Regions from separate parts of the Homo sapiens genome. Here all the other regions are linked to region 3. The links come from fine-mapping of genetic effects on gene expression. A gene starts in region 3. Each other region holds a variant in brackets. All regions are shown on one strand. Distances are between the middles of the regions.

The links. PIP is the estimated chance that this variant, and not a neighbour inherited with it, causes the effect. A credible set is the group of variants that fine-mapping cannot tell apart.
Region 1: its variant is the best candidate, but not a certain one, in a credible set for the expression of DPH1 in whole blood (TOPMed, PIP 0.87).
Region 2: its variant is the best candidate, but not a certain one, in a credible set for the expression of DPH1 in Th2 cells (Schmiedel 2018, PIP 0.63).

Annotation. Positions count from the first base shown.
Region 1 is chr17:2,077,502-2,081,768 of GRCh38, reverse strand. All of the region lies in intron 15 of SMG6 (SMG6 nonsense mediated mRNA decay factor), which reads left to right. Among named protein-coding and RNA genes, the nearest start is that of SMG6-AS1, 10 kb to the left of the region's middle. The variant G/A (reference allele first, on the strand shown) is at 2,177.
Region 2 is chr17:1,997,187-2,001,186 of GRCh38, reverse strand. All of the region lies in intron 1 of RTN4RL1 (reticulon 4 receptor like 1), which reads left to right. Among named protein-coding and RNA genes, the nearest start is that of RTN4RL1-AS1, 19 kb to the left of the region's middle. RefSeq lists an enhancer at 692-1,202. The variant GTGTGTGTA/A (reference allele first, on the strand shown) is at 2,037.
Region 3 is chr17:2,028,063-2,032,380 of GRCh38, reverse strand. DPH1 (diphthamide biosynthesis 1) reads right to left here and starts at 2,228. Exons shown (of 13, transcript NM_001383.6): 1 at 2,151-2,228. The coding sequence starts at 2,211. RefSeq lists enhancers at 1,297-1,888, 1,889-2,480.

The DNA of each region.
Region 1 (4,267 bases), 49 kb before region 3:
GCTGTCTAGGGCATGAGAGGATGTGGGCAGAGAGCAGAGCTGAGCAGGACACTAAGAGTGAGTCAGTCCTGCAGTGTTCTCTCTAGCTCTACCCGTTTTTCACTCTACCACTAAATTCTGGTAGCAGGTTTGGTGCCTAGAGTCTCCCTCATCCTGGGCTCCAAGGCAGGGGTACGGTCTTCTCAGAGACTCTGAGAAAAGCTGCTTCCCCAGTGAGAATCTCCAAATGCACACCACACATACATGATCTTTCACACAATGTGAGGGGTTTCAGAGTTTCCCTGAGCCTTATCCAGATATCCCTGGAGAGGCTGTGGATTCTTACTTCAGAACGCCTGTTCCCAGGGAGAGGATGGCATGGCCACAGTCTGCTTGCCTGGATTCCCAATGAAATGGAAGACTCCTCTGGACAAGATACTCCCTACACCCTTGCAGAGACAAACTACTTAATCTCCACACAGGGACTTTGACCCCCATCAGCCCTCTCACGGGCCTGTGCCTTCACCCCCAGCAAGTGTTTCTTCCTGGCCTTCTAGGTCTGTTCCCTTGTGCTGTGAGGCCGTTTGCTGTCCTCTAGGGCTCGGGGCAGACAGGGAAGAGGCAGTCCTGCTCCCCGTTTAAAGGTGAACCGTGTGCATAGGGAAGCATCAAGCCACCCACTCCGCTTCTTTAAGGATGCCCATTTCCAACCCTGTCCTTTGGCATAGGGTTTGATGCATGTGATCAGGCAGACCCAGTGACAGTCTAGGCCCTGCCACCTAAATAGCTTTGTAACATGGGGCAAATCATTCAGCTTCTCAGAGCCTGTTTCCTCATCTGTTAAATGAAAGTGCTGGCCGGGCGCGGTGGCTCACGCCTGTCATCCCAGCACTTTGGGAGGCTGAGGCGGGCGGATCATGAGGTCAGGAGATTGAGACCATCCTGGCTAACATGGTGAAACCCTGTCTCTACTAAAAATACAAAAAATTAGCTGGGCATGGTGGTGCACACCTGTAATCCCAGCTACTCAGGAGGCTGAGGCAAGAGAATCGCTTGAACCCGGGAGGCGGAGGTTGCAGTGAGCCAATCTTGCACCATTGCACTCCAGCCTGGGCTACAGGGTGAGACTCCATCTCAAAAAAAAAAAAAGAAAAAAGAAAAAAGTGCTAATAGCACCTATCTCTCAGAGTCACTGTGAGGCCTACACGAGACAGTGTATGTAAAGCACTTAGCATAGTGCATGGCACTTAGTATGTGCTCCATGAACGGCCACCTTTGTCTGATATTTGTCTAATCACCCTGGCCAGGGAAGAGGAATAAATACCAATCGAGAGCCATCTTTTTTTTGTTTGTTTGTTTTTGTTTTTGTTTTGAGACAGAGTCTCGCTGTGTTGCCCAGGCTGGAGTCCAGTGGCATGATCTCAGCTCACTCCAACCTCCACCTCCCGGGTTCCAGCGATTCTCTTGCCTCAGCCTCCAGAGTAGCTGGAATTACAGATGCCTGCCACCATGCCCAGCTAATTTTGTATTTTTAGTAAAGACAGGGTTTTGCTGTGTGTGCCAGGCCAGTCTTGAACTCCTGACCTCAGGTGATCTGCCCGCCTCTGCCTTCCAAAGTGCTGGGATTACAGGCATGAGCCGTCACACTGGCCAAGATCCATCATTCTTTTGTTTTGTTTTGTTTTGTTTTGTTTTGTTTTGTTTTGTTTTGTTTTGAGATGGAGTCTTGCCCTGTTGCCCAGGCTGGAGTGTAGTGGCGCAATCTCAGCTCACTGCAACCTCTGCCTCCCGGGTTGAAACGATTCTCCTGTCTCAGCCTCCCAAGTAGCTGGGATTACAGGCGCCTGCCACCATACCCAGCTAATTTCTGTATTTTTAGTAGAAATGGGGTTTCACCATGTTGGCCAGGCTGGTCTCAAACTCCTGACCTCAGGTGATCTGCCCGCCTTGGCCTCCCAAAGTGCTGGGATTACAGGCGTGAGCCACTGCGCCCAGCCTCCATCATTCTTTAGACAGATTCACGTCCCTGCTACCATTGGAATCAGTGTGTAATACCTCTACCAGCATCATCCATTGTCATGTGGCTGCCTCCCCAGCCCTGCTGTGGGTCTACATGTAAACTTGTGCATGATCCTCAAAACAGCTTTATCCTCATGCTTCTTTTACTTTTTTTTTTTTGAGATGGAGTCTCGCTGTC[G/A]TGATCTCAGCTCACTGCAACCTCCACCTCCCAGGTTCAAGTGATTCTCCTGCCTCAGCCTCCCAAGTAGCTGGGATTACAGGCATGCACCACCACGCCCAGCTAATTTTTTTTGTATTTTTCGTAGAGACCAGGTTTCACCATGTTAGCCAGGATGGTCTCAATCTCTTGACTTCGTGATCTGCCCGCCACGGCCTCCCGAAGTGCCCTTATGCTTCTTTTCTTGCTCTTCCTTACCATCTGTTTTCCCAGAAATTCTGTTTCTACCGTTATTTCTTGACTCTCAACCCAGCAGTTATGGAAACTGTTGCGTCAAAAGTCACCAATATGGCCAGGCACGGTGGCTCACGCCTATAATGCCAACACTTTGGGAGGCCACGGTGGGTGGATCATTTGAGATCAGGAGTTCGAGACCAGCCTGGCCAACATGGTGAAACCCTGTCTCTACTAAAAATACAAAAGTGAGCCGGGTGTGGTGGCGGGTGCCTGTAGTCCCAGCTACTCGGGAGGCTGAGGCAGGAGAATCTCTTGAACCCAGGAGGCGGAGGTTACAGTGAGCCAAGATTGCGCCACTGCACCCCAGCCTGGGCAACAGAGCAAGACTCCATCTTAAAAAGAAAAATCACCGATGACCTATCTTCATCAAACCTTAGTCTGTGTCATAGTTGACCAATCACCAATGACCTATCTTTATCAAATTTCAGTCTGTGTCATAGTTGACCTCCCTTTGTCTTTGGGCCCTAAAGCCACCTTCCTTCAGCTTCCCTTCAGCATCGATGAATGACCCCTTGTCTTCTCCCTGTTCGCCAGACCACCCTCCTGGGCTTCCTCACCACCATTCTTTTTTTGGTCTCCTCCATCCTTCCTTTTACTCCTTAGTCTCAGCAAGCTGAGTTAGTGCTCAGCAGATATGTATTCAGTGGCTGGGCGCAGTGGCTTATGCCTGTAATCCCAGCACTTTGGGCAGCCGAGGCTGGCAGATCACTTGAGGTCAGGAGTTCAAGACCAGCCTGGCCAACATGATGAAACCTCATCTCTACTAAAAATACAAAAACTAGCTGAGTGTTGTGGCGGGTGCCTGTAATCCCAGCTACTCAGGAGGCTGAGGCAGGAGAATCACTTCAACCCAGAAGGTGGAGGTTGCAGTGAGCCGAGATCGAGCCATTAGACTTTAGCCCTGGGCGAGACTCTGTCTCAAAAAAAAAAAAAAAGTATTCAGTGACAATAATAGTAGCAACTAGAGCATCATCTTAAATTCCACTCTGGCTTTTAACCCCTAGTATCTAATTTCATATTAAATACTATTTATTCACACATTTATTCCCTCTTCTCCTCTCTGTTTCCATTGCCACTACTACTATTCTAGGTCAAGTAGTTGCTTAGAGTGTAGCAGTCAAGGCCCCTGCATTGCACAGCCCCAGAAGGTGCCATTTGCCTTGTTTCTGTAAGTGGCACCTCCTGGAGTTTGTAGCATACCAGGCTCCTGCCCACCAGGCTCCTATTCACTGCACTGCCTCCATCATTCTCTTCCTGAAAGAGCCACTCCCCTGCTCAGAAATCATCAGGCCTTTGCTTGGCTAGTAAAAAAAAGTCTTAATTCCCTATTATTGGCATTTAAGGCTTTTTGATCTGTTCCCAGTCTGTTTTTCCAGCCTCTTCTCCCACTACCCCATCCCTCATGAACCCTTACTAGTTATATGACATTGGGCAGATTATTTAACTTTTCTGAGCCTGTTTCCTCATCTTTATAATGAAAGTAATGCCAGACACAGTGGGCACGTGCCTATGGTTCCAACTACTCAGGAGGCTGAGGCTGGATGATAGCTTGAGCCCAGGAGTACAAGGCTATGGTGTGCAGTGATCATGCCCGTGAATAACCACTGCAACATAGCAAAACCCCGTCTCTTAAACACTTTTTTAGTGAAAGTGGTAAAAGCACCAATATTAGAGCTGCTGTGAGGCCTCGGAATGAACCACAGTGCACGTAAAATGCCTGTGCAGACACTAAGGCCCTCCTGCCTGGACAGTGACACCCACCTTCCTTTCCACTCCCTAGGCATGCTCTGCCTTTTTCCACTCGGGTTTTTGTTC
Region 2 (4,000 bases), 31 kb after region 3:
GGCCAGGCGTGGTGGCTCACACCTGTAATCCCAGCACTTTGGGAGGCTGAGAGGGGAGGATGACTTGAACCCAGGAGTTCAATGCCAGCCTGGGCAACATAGTGAGACCCCATCACTACAAAAAAAAAAAAAGTAAATGAAAAACATTATTATTGTTATCTTTATCAAGTGATTCTCAGACACAGAGGGCAGCCTGTCACGTCTCCTATTCCATGACCCTCCACAGCTCACAAAGGCCTGCGAGCCACAGCTGTTTCCATGCAGTATTCCCACCATCCCTCCAAGAGGGGCTGAAGGTGAGGCTGGGTGGCATGATTTGGAGCCTTGCCCAAGGCTGCTGGACCCGTAGGTAATAGAACCAGAACCCTGCCAGCTGCAGTGGCGCACCCCTGTAATCCCCGTACTTCGGGAGGCTGAGCTGGGCGGATCACCTGAGGTCAGGAGTTCAAGACCAGCCTGGCCAACATGGCGAAACCCCATCTCTACTAAAAATACAAAAATTAGCCAGACGTGGTGGCACGCCCCTGTAATCCCAGCTACTCAGGAGGCTGAGGCAGGAGAATGACTTGAACCTGGGAGACGGAGGTGAGCCGAGATCGCACCATTGCACACCAGCCTGGGCAAGAAAAGCGAAAATCAGTCTCAAAATAAATAAATAAATAAATAAAATACTAAAATTAGCTGGACATGGTGGCATGTGCTTGTAATCCCAGTTACTCGGGAGGCTGAGACTTGAGAATCGCTAGAACCCAGGAGGTGGAGGTAGCACCGAGACCATGCCGCTGCACTCCAGCCTGGGCGGCAGAGAGAGACTCCATCTTAAACAAACAAACAAACAAAAACTGGAACCCAAAGTAGGACTTTGTGTCCCTTCCCTGCCTCCCGTCCTGACATTCCTTCCTCTGCCCCATCCTGCTTCCTAACAAGGCACCCAATATCCTTGGCTCTGGGCTCCAGGAGCCAACCCAGGAAGCAAACTAGGAAAGGCCTGGCCGGGCTGGGTAGGGACACCTGGGGCAGCGGTGGCTGCTACTTGGCAGACACGCCTTCTCCCTGACACAGCTGTCAGCCTTTGCAGTTCTGCTGAGGCAGCAGCCCTGGCCCAGGCAGGCTTCCCTCCCTCTGTGCTGGGTACATGCACACAGGGCTGGCTGCAGATGGCCGGCCTGTGCCCCTGCACCCATCCAGGCCCAGGGACCCTGGCCTGCCCAGTGGTCAGCACTTGGCCACCTGGCCTCCAGGGCCCCACTGCCTGCCCCCCTGGGGACAGGCCTGCCCCAGCTGCTCTGGGCCCTAGACAGGAGAGGAGAGGCGAGAAGAGGCAAGGCCGTGAGGCCGGAGGGCAGGAAAAGCCGGGAGGGAGGTGGCTATTTATAGCCAGCTTTGCTTTTGTTCCTTTTCCAGCAATGCCTCTCTTTAAATAGGAGCAGGGCTGGAGGCTGCAGCTCTTCCCCAGCCGCCTGCAGTCAGCACGCAAGAGTGTGTGTGCCTGTGCGTGTGTGTGTGGGGGGGGCATGTATAGGGAGTGGGCACTGCAGTGTGTATTTGTGCATGTGTGCAGGGACAGGAAGAAGAGGCTGGATGTTCTGTGTACGTGTGTGCTTGTGTGTACACCGACATGTACAGGGTGGCAGTGGGTGAACAGCTCTTTGTGTATGGGTGTTGGGAGCTGCATGTGCACATACGTGGATAGGGATGGGGCAGTTCATGTGTGTGTGTGTGTGTGTGTTTTATTTTTTTCGAGACGGAGTCTTGCTCTGTTGCTCAGGCTGGAGTGCAGTGGCGCGATCTCGGTTCACTGCAATCTCCTCCTCCCGGGTTCAAGTGATTCTCCTGCCTCAGCCTCCCGAGTAGCTGGGATCACAGGCGCGCGCCACCACGCCCGGCTAATTTTTGTATTCTTGGTAGAGACGGGGTTTCACCATGTTGGCCAGGATGGTCTCCAACTCTTGATCTCGTGATCCGCCCGCCTCCGCCTCCCAAAGTGCTGAGATTACAGCCGTGAGCCACCGCGCCCGGCCGGTGTGTGTGTGTGT[GTGTGTGTA/A]TGATGAGCACACATTCAGTGCAGCGTGTGTGTGTGTGTGTGTGTGTGATCGCGCATGTGTCTGGTGTAGACTGGCGTGAGCAGCTCTCTGGGGCGAGTGAACATCGCTGTAAGGGGCTGTGGAGTGGTCCCCGCCCTGTGTGTGAGAGGATGGCATCGTGCAGGGAAGGGGGAGCAGCTCTTCAGTTGTGCACAGCCGACTGGAACCCTCGGTGAGGGCAGGGCCTGTGTCTGTTCTGCGCGTGGGATGAGCGCGTAGAGAATAAAGGGGCTCCGGGGTCGTCTTCGGCTGCCGGGAAAGTGCGTCAAACCCGCGTCCCCAGCGTTTTTAGGGCCCTCGCAGAGCCCCACCCCCACCCCCACCCCGGGGTCCCCGTGCGCGCGAGGCCGCCCCTGTCCCCGTCTGTGCTGCGAGGCCCGTGAGGGGAGCGGGGCCCGGGCGCTCCGGCAGCGCCAGCTTGGGCAGGAAAGCGCCGCGGCGACCTCGGAGGCCACATCCCGGCGAGCCCAGGAGGAGGCGAGCCGGCCCCACGTCCCCCACCCTCCGCCTCAGCGTTCACGTCTGTAAAGTGGGGGCAGGAAAGCCGCCGGGGATCCGGCAGGGACCTGCGCGCTGGGCAGCGGTGGCCGGCCCGGGGGCAGCCGCGGGGAGGGGAGGCCCGACCCGAGCGGGGCGCGTGGGGTGCGCAGATCCCCGGCCGGCGGCTCCCGCGAGAGGGAACGGATCCCAGCGCGGCCGCGGCTCCCCGCGCGGTAACCCCGATCTCTCAGCGCGGGCCCCCGGCTCTAGAGCGAGAAGACCCTCCCGGGCGGGGCCGGTGCCCAAAGGGCGCGCTCGGCTCGGGTCGGCCTGCGGGAGGCCTTGGGGCGCCGGGTCTGGGCACCGCCCTCGCCCTGCAGCTCCGGATCAATGCGACAGCCCTCCCCGCCCCTCCCCCAAAGGCCAAACAAAACATAGTAAATATTTAATCCGGGCCAGGGAGCCAAGGAGGCCTCCCCGCCCCCTCCGCCGCCGTCTGGCTCCCCTGCCAGCCCCGGCAGCTCTCCCTCGGTAATGAGGCCGGGAGAGGCCGGGATCGATCGCGGCCTGGGGCGGAGGCGGGGGTGGGGGTGGGGCGCCCGGCACCCTGAGGGGGACATCGCTGCCCGCCCCCAGGCCCCAGACCCAGGAGCCCAACCGAAGGCACCTGCGCCCACGCTTTCCCCAGAAGGCCTGCGAGGAGCGCGCCGGCCCCTGCCGGCCTGCCCTTGTCACCTCCCTTCTCAGAGGGCGTCAGCTGGGGTCGGGGGTCTGCGGGGATGCAGGCCCGAGTAGGAGGGCTGTGAAGGGGGCGGGGACCTCCCAGCCCCGGCTCAGGCCTGACCTCCGAGTCCTAGTGGTTTAAAGCCAGCAGGGGCTTGGATGAGGCCTGGGTGGGGCAGGGGCAGCTAGGGGTGCCCTAGAGGGAGGCTGGCGAGGTGTTCCTGTACCTTGGAGTAGGATACCTTAGTGTGCTGGTGGTGCTCCCGATTTCCTGGGCATTGCCTGGGGAATACCTAGAGGGGACGGTGACATCCTCACTGCTCATTCATGCAGTGGTTTATGATTGAGCACCTACTATGGGCCAGTCATACTTGTCGACTACCAGACAGACAAGTTCAGACCTGCAGAGGGATCGCATTCCAGAGAGCGACAGTTAATAAGTAAACACATGCGATGATTTCAGATCGTGGTTGGACTCAGTGTAGAGAATAAAACTGTTAATGTGATATTGTACTTGGCCGGGAGAGGAGCCACATCAGCTGGGCTGGTCCTGGAGCTGGCTGAGGACGATGGGTTGGGGAAAAAGCATCCCAGACAAAGTCTGTAGGAAGTGCAAAGGCCCAGAGGCAGGAAATAATTTGCGAGGAAGGCCAGTGAGGTTGATTGTCGTGAGTGAAGAAGCAGGTAGTGAGCGGCAGATCCCTGAAGGTCTC
Region 3 (4,318 bases):
AATATGGCTCACCTTCTTCCTCAGGAGAACAGAGGTGACACCAGGGGCTAAGGGGCAAAGAATGAGTCTGAGTCCATATACTGCTCCCTGATAGAGAACAGCCCTGCGGAAAACCTAAGAGTCAGTCTAGCCAGCCCAGCCAGCCTGGGAGAATGTCCCCCCTCTCCCACCTCCTGAGGACACCTTGAAGTTTTGAGCTTCTAGATATGAGGTCTATAAGCAAACCGTTAAACATGAATACTAACTTAAAAGACTGCCCTCCTGACTCAGAACCCCACTGACTGTGGCCACACTGTTCGTTCTTTCACGCTTACCTCTCCTCATTTAAAAGGGAAATAAACATCATACATTTAACTGACTTAGCTGTCCCATTGCTCCTCCTTACTCTTAAACCAGGAAGGATGGAAAGAACACTTGAGTCAGGGTGGTGGACGTACCAGTAAGGACAGAAAAGTGACCTTGTCCCTTAGAGACCAGCAGTCTAGTGGGGGAAAAGACAGGTATACACATAATTACAACTCCTGGAGTAAAGGGGAAACCGTAGCCCTTAGCAAACTGCAACTCTTACTCTGGTCTCATCCTACTCCTAAGTAGGATAAAAAATAATAAGCTGAATAAACAATTCATCTTATTATTTTTTAAGGCAGGGTCTCACTCCATCACCCAGGCTGGAGTGCAGGGGTGCAATCATGGTCCACTGCGGCCTCGACGTCCTGGGCTCAAACGATAATCCTCCCACCTCAGCCTCCCCAGTAGCTAGGACCACAGGCATGTGCCAAGACGCAGGGCTAATTTTTTTTTTTTTTTTTTTTTTTGAGACAGAGTCTCACTCTGTCTGTTGGCCAGGCTGGAGTGCAGTGGTGCAATCTCGGCTCACTGCAACCTCAGCCTCTCGGACTCAAGCAATTCTCCTGCCTCAGCCTCCCGAGTAGCTGGGATTACAGGCGTGTGCTACCACACGCGGCTAATTTTTGTATTTTTAGTAGAGACAGGGTTTCCACCATGTTGGCCAGGCTGGTCTCAAACTCCTGACCTCAGGTAATCCGCCCGCCTCAGCCTCCCAGAGTGCTGGGATTACAGGTGTAAGCCACCGTGCCCGGCCACGCACGGCTATTTTTTATTTTTTTGTGCATACAGGGTCCCCCTATGTTTCCCAGACTGGTGTGGAATTCCTGGGCTCACACAATCCTCCTTAGCCTCCCAAAGTGCTCAGACTAAAGGTGTAAGCCACTATGCCCTGCCCCGACAATTAAGCTTAGTTCAACCCCGTTATCTCTTCAGGAGCCACAGAGTCTGAGGATATGAAAAGGCAAGAAATTAACTTATTCAACGAATATGTATTGAGACTGTGCTATGTGCCACAACTTCTGCTAGGGCCCCACACTATGATAGGAGGGACCCGCCCAGACATGAGGCTTCACCCACTGTGTGGGCGGCGGTGGGGATGGTCCAGCGGAGGCTGGGGCCCTGAGATCAGATTTGAACGTTACCACTGCTATGGTTTTTGGCCAGTTGTTTCAAAAGCCTTGGACAATCAGCCTAGGCTTCCTAGGCCCATTACAGATCCTCCTCTGACAGGTCCCTAGTGGTCGCTGGCGTGTAAGGAACTGCTAACATTAGCCCTTCAATGTGTCCCAGGGACCAGTAGGCACCTCCTCCTTTATCACGTGGCTATGATATGTTTACATTAACATTCCCCCAGTAGACTGAGATCTCTGATTCTAGTACCTGCACCCAGCGCAGGCCTGGCATTCGGTGGGCGCTCAGTTAATGCCTGGCGAATGAAACCTTTTGCCTCTTCCCTGAAAGCATTCCCTGAGGGCGCACTCGTAAAATGCCCGCTGCATCTGGCCTGGCCCTTTCCCTCCCCGTCGAGTCCATTTTATCCGTCTACCCGCCAAGACAAGGCTGTAGTTTCCGATTGGAGGATTAAGGGCTGCTCTCGGTCGTGCCCTAAAGCTGCAAAAGACTGGTACCCCTGGGCTCCGGCTGACAGCGACCCCGAGCTGGTGACAGCGGCCCAAGGCGACTAACAGCGGGATCTAGCGGAGAAAGGCGCCGCCGCCGTTAAAGGGGGTTGGTCCTGTCCCTAACTTGGGGGCCCCGCCCCGAGATGCGAGGTCTGGAGGGCGCAGCGTTCCAGCACCCACCTCTGCCAGGGCCGTCTCGGCCGCCCTGCTCCGCTGCCCCGGATACGACCAGCGCCGCCATCACCTGCCTGCGCATGTGGTACTAAAAAGACAGCGCTGGAAGAACGCGGAGAGCGCAGACATTGCGATCGATCGCCGATCGGCCAGCGGGGGCGGGGGATACCCGCTGGGCGGGGCCATAAAGGAGGAGATAGGGGCGGGGCTGTAGTGGGCTCCACCCCAGCCCAGAATGCCGGGACTCAGGATTCCCTAGAGGTCCCCGACTATGCAGTTGCCCTTGCCCTGCGACTTAGTCTCCCACTCCTCTCCCCGGCCGGGCACGAGCCTGGCACTCCCGGACCGGTGCTCTCCTATGTGCGAACTCCCTGCACGAACTCTGCAGGCCGAGTCTTGTGAAGGGGACACCCACCAGATGTTCCTTGAGCCCCCCCTGCCAGTCTCCCCTCCTGGTAAGCAGTGGTCGGTCACCCGGCCGCCGTGTGGGGCCACGTTCCCTACCTAGGGGGACTCTACTGTCCGGCAGGACAGAACTCAGGGACCACCAGCCCAGCTCCAAGTTGAGAGTCTTGGTGCAGGTTTGTGGATCGCCCTTATCAGCTTTTTAAATTATTTTTTTTGAGACAGGGTCTTGGTCTGTCGCCCAGGCTGGAGTGCAGTGGTGCGATCATGGTTCACAGCAGTCTCAACCTTCTGGGCTCAATTCATCTTCCTGCCTCAGCCCCCTGAGTACCCGGGACCACAGGCGTACGTTCAGCTAATTTTTTTTTTTTTTTTTTTTTTTTTTTTTAGTAGAGATAAGGTTTCACTATTTTGCTCAGGCTGGTCTTGAACCTCTGGACTCAAGCAATCCTCCCACTTTGGCCTCCCAAAGTGCTGGGATTACAGGCGCGAGCCACTGCACCCAGCCTTTATCACCTTTAGAATCCACTGCGTAGACCCTGTAGAAACTGCCCCTCTGGGGAAGGCCCACAGCCTGAGGGTGCTTTCCTGGGAAGGTGGGCAGTGGAGGACTGTGATGTCTAACCCTTCTGGACCCTGGCCAACCTTTGCCCTGCCCCTCAGGGCTGGTCTTTCTCCTGATCACTGGCCAGAGCCCCAGAGACCCCAAAGAGAAGACAGCCAGTGAGACGGCTTTGACCTGTGGAAGAGCAAAGTACCTGCAGGACTGGCCCTCAGCAGTCTGTCCCGTGGAACAATGGTCTTCCAGGTCTGACGGTCTACCCAGCCCCCTGGCATCCTCCTCCTCTCTCTGCGGTGGTGCTGTGATCACAGCTGGCCCTTTAAGTCAGCTCTGTGTCCTCGGGCTCCCCCAGAGGCCCTCCCTGCTTGGAAACCCCTAATTAAGGTGCAGGGAGAAGTAAAAACAAGCAGCCAGAGACAGGCCCTGCCTGGGAGGCTGCCCAGAGAGGAGGAATGGCTGGACAGGCAGGGAGTGAGCAGCTGAGGGACCATCACCAAGGGTCAGTGCTGTGCCCCCCAGGCCACCGGCACTCTTAGGACAGGTAGCTCTAGACAGAAAAGTGACCAATGTGGGTCCCAGGAACACTCCCCTCAACTCGATAAGCGTCCGGACTAGACCTTCCCATCTCCCCCCAGCTTCTCTGGATCCCCAGGGTGCAAGATCTGAATTCTGGGAGCTCAGCCCCTCCTCTCTCAGGACACTGCTGCCCAGCCTGTGGACAGCCTTAGCTGTGACTGCAGCATGGAGTTTCAAGGGGAAAGGACTGGCTCCAACTGAGCAATGGCTTCTCCCTAGCAGGCGCCATATCCCTTGGGACCTTTCCCTCATCAGAGGTGGGGCCTGTTTGATGGCAAAAGTCCCATCCCTCTAGTAACATTGCCCCGCACCCGCTGTGCCTAATGAGCTGCTCTGGCCCCCATTAGGAAGCCGGATGATGCCTAGGAGAACTGGACATGAAGAACAGATGTGAGAATGCTTCCCCAAGACTCCGTGGTGCAGGACATTGGGGGCTGCCATTCAGCTTGGGCTGAGGGCACCTCCATCTGTCTGTGGGGGTCTCCCTGCCTGAGTTACTCAGCAGTCTGAGTAATTACTGCCTGACAAGAAGGCGGGCACAGTGCACCCCCACAGTACACCACAACACCCGCCTTCACTCGCCCCCACTCCCTGGCTGGACTCCAAGGCAGCACCCAACCCTCCTGAGGCC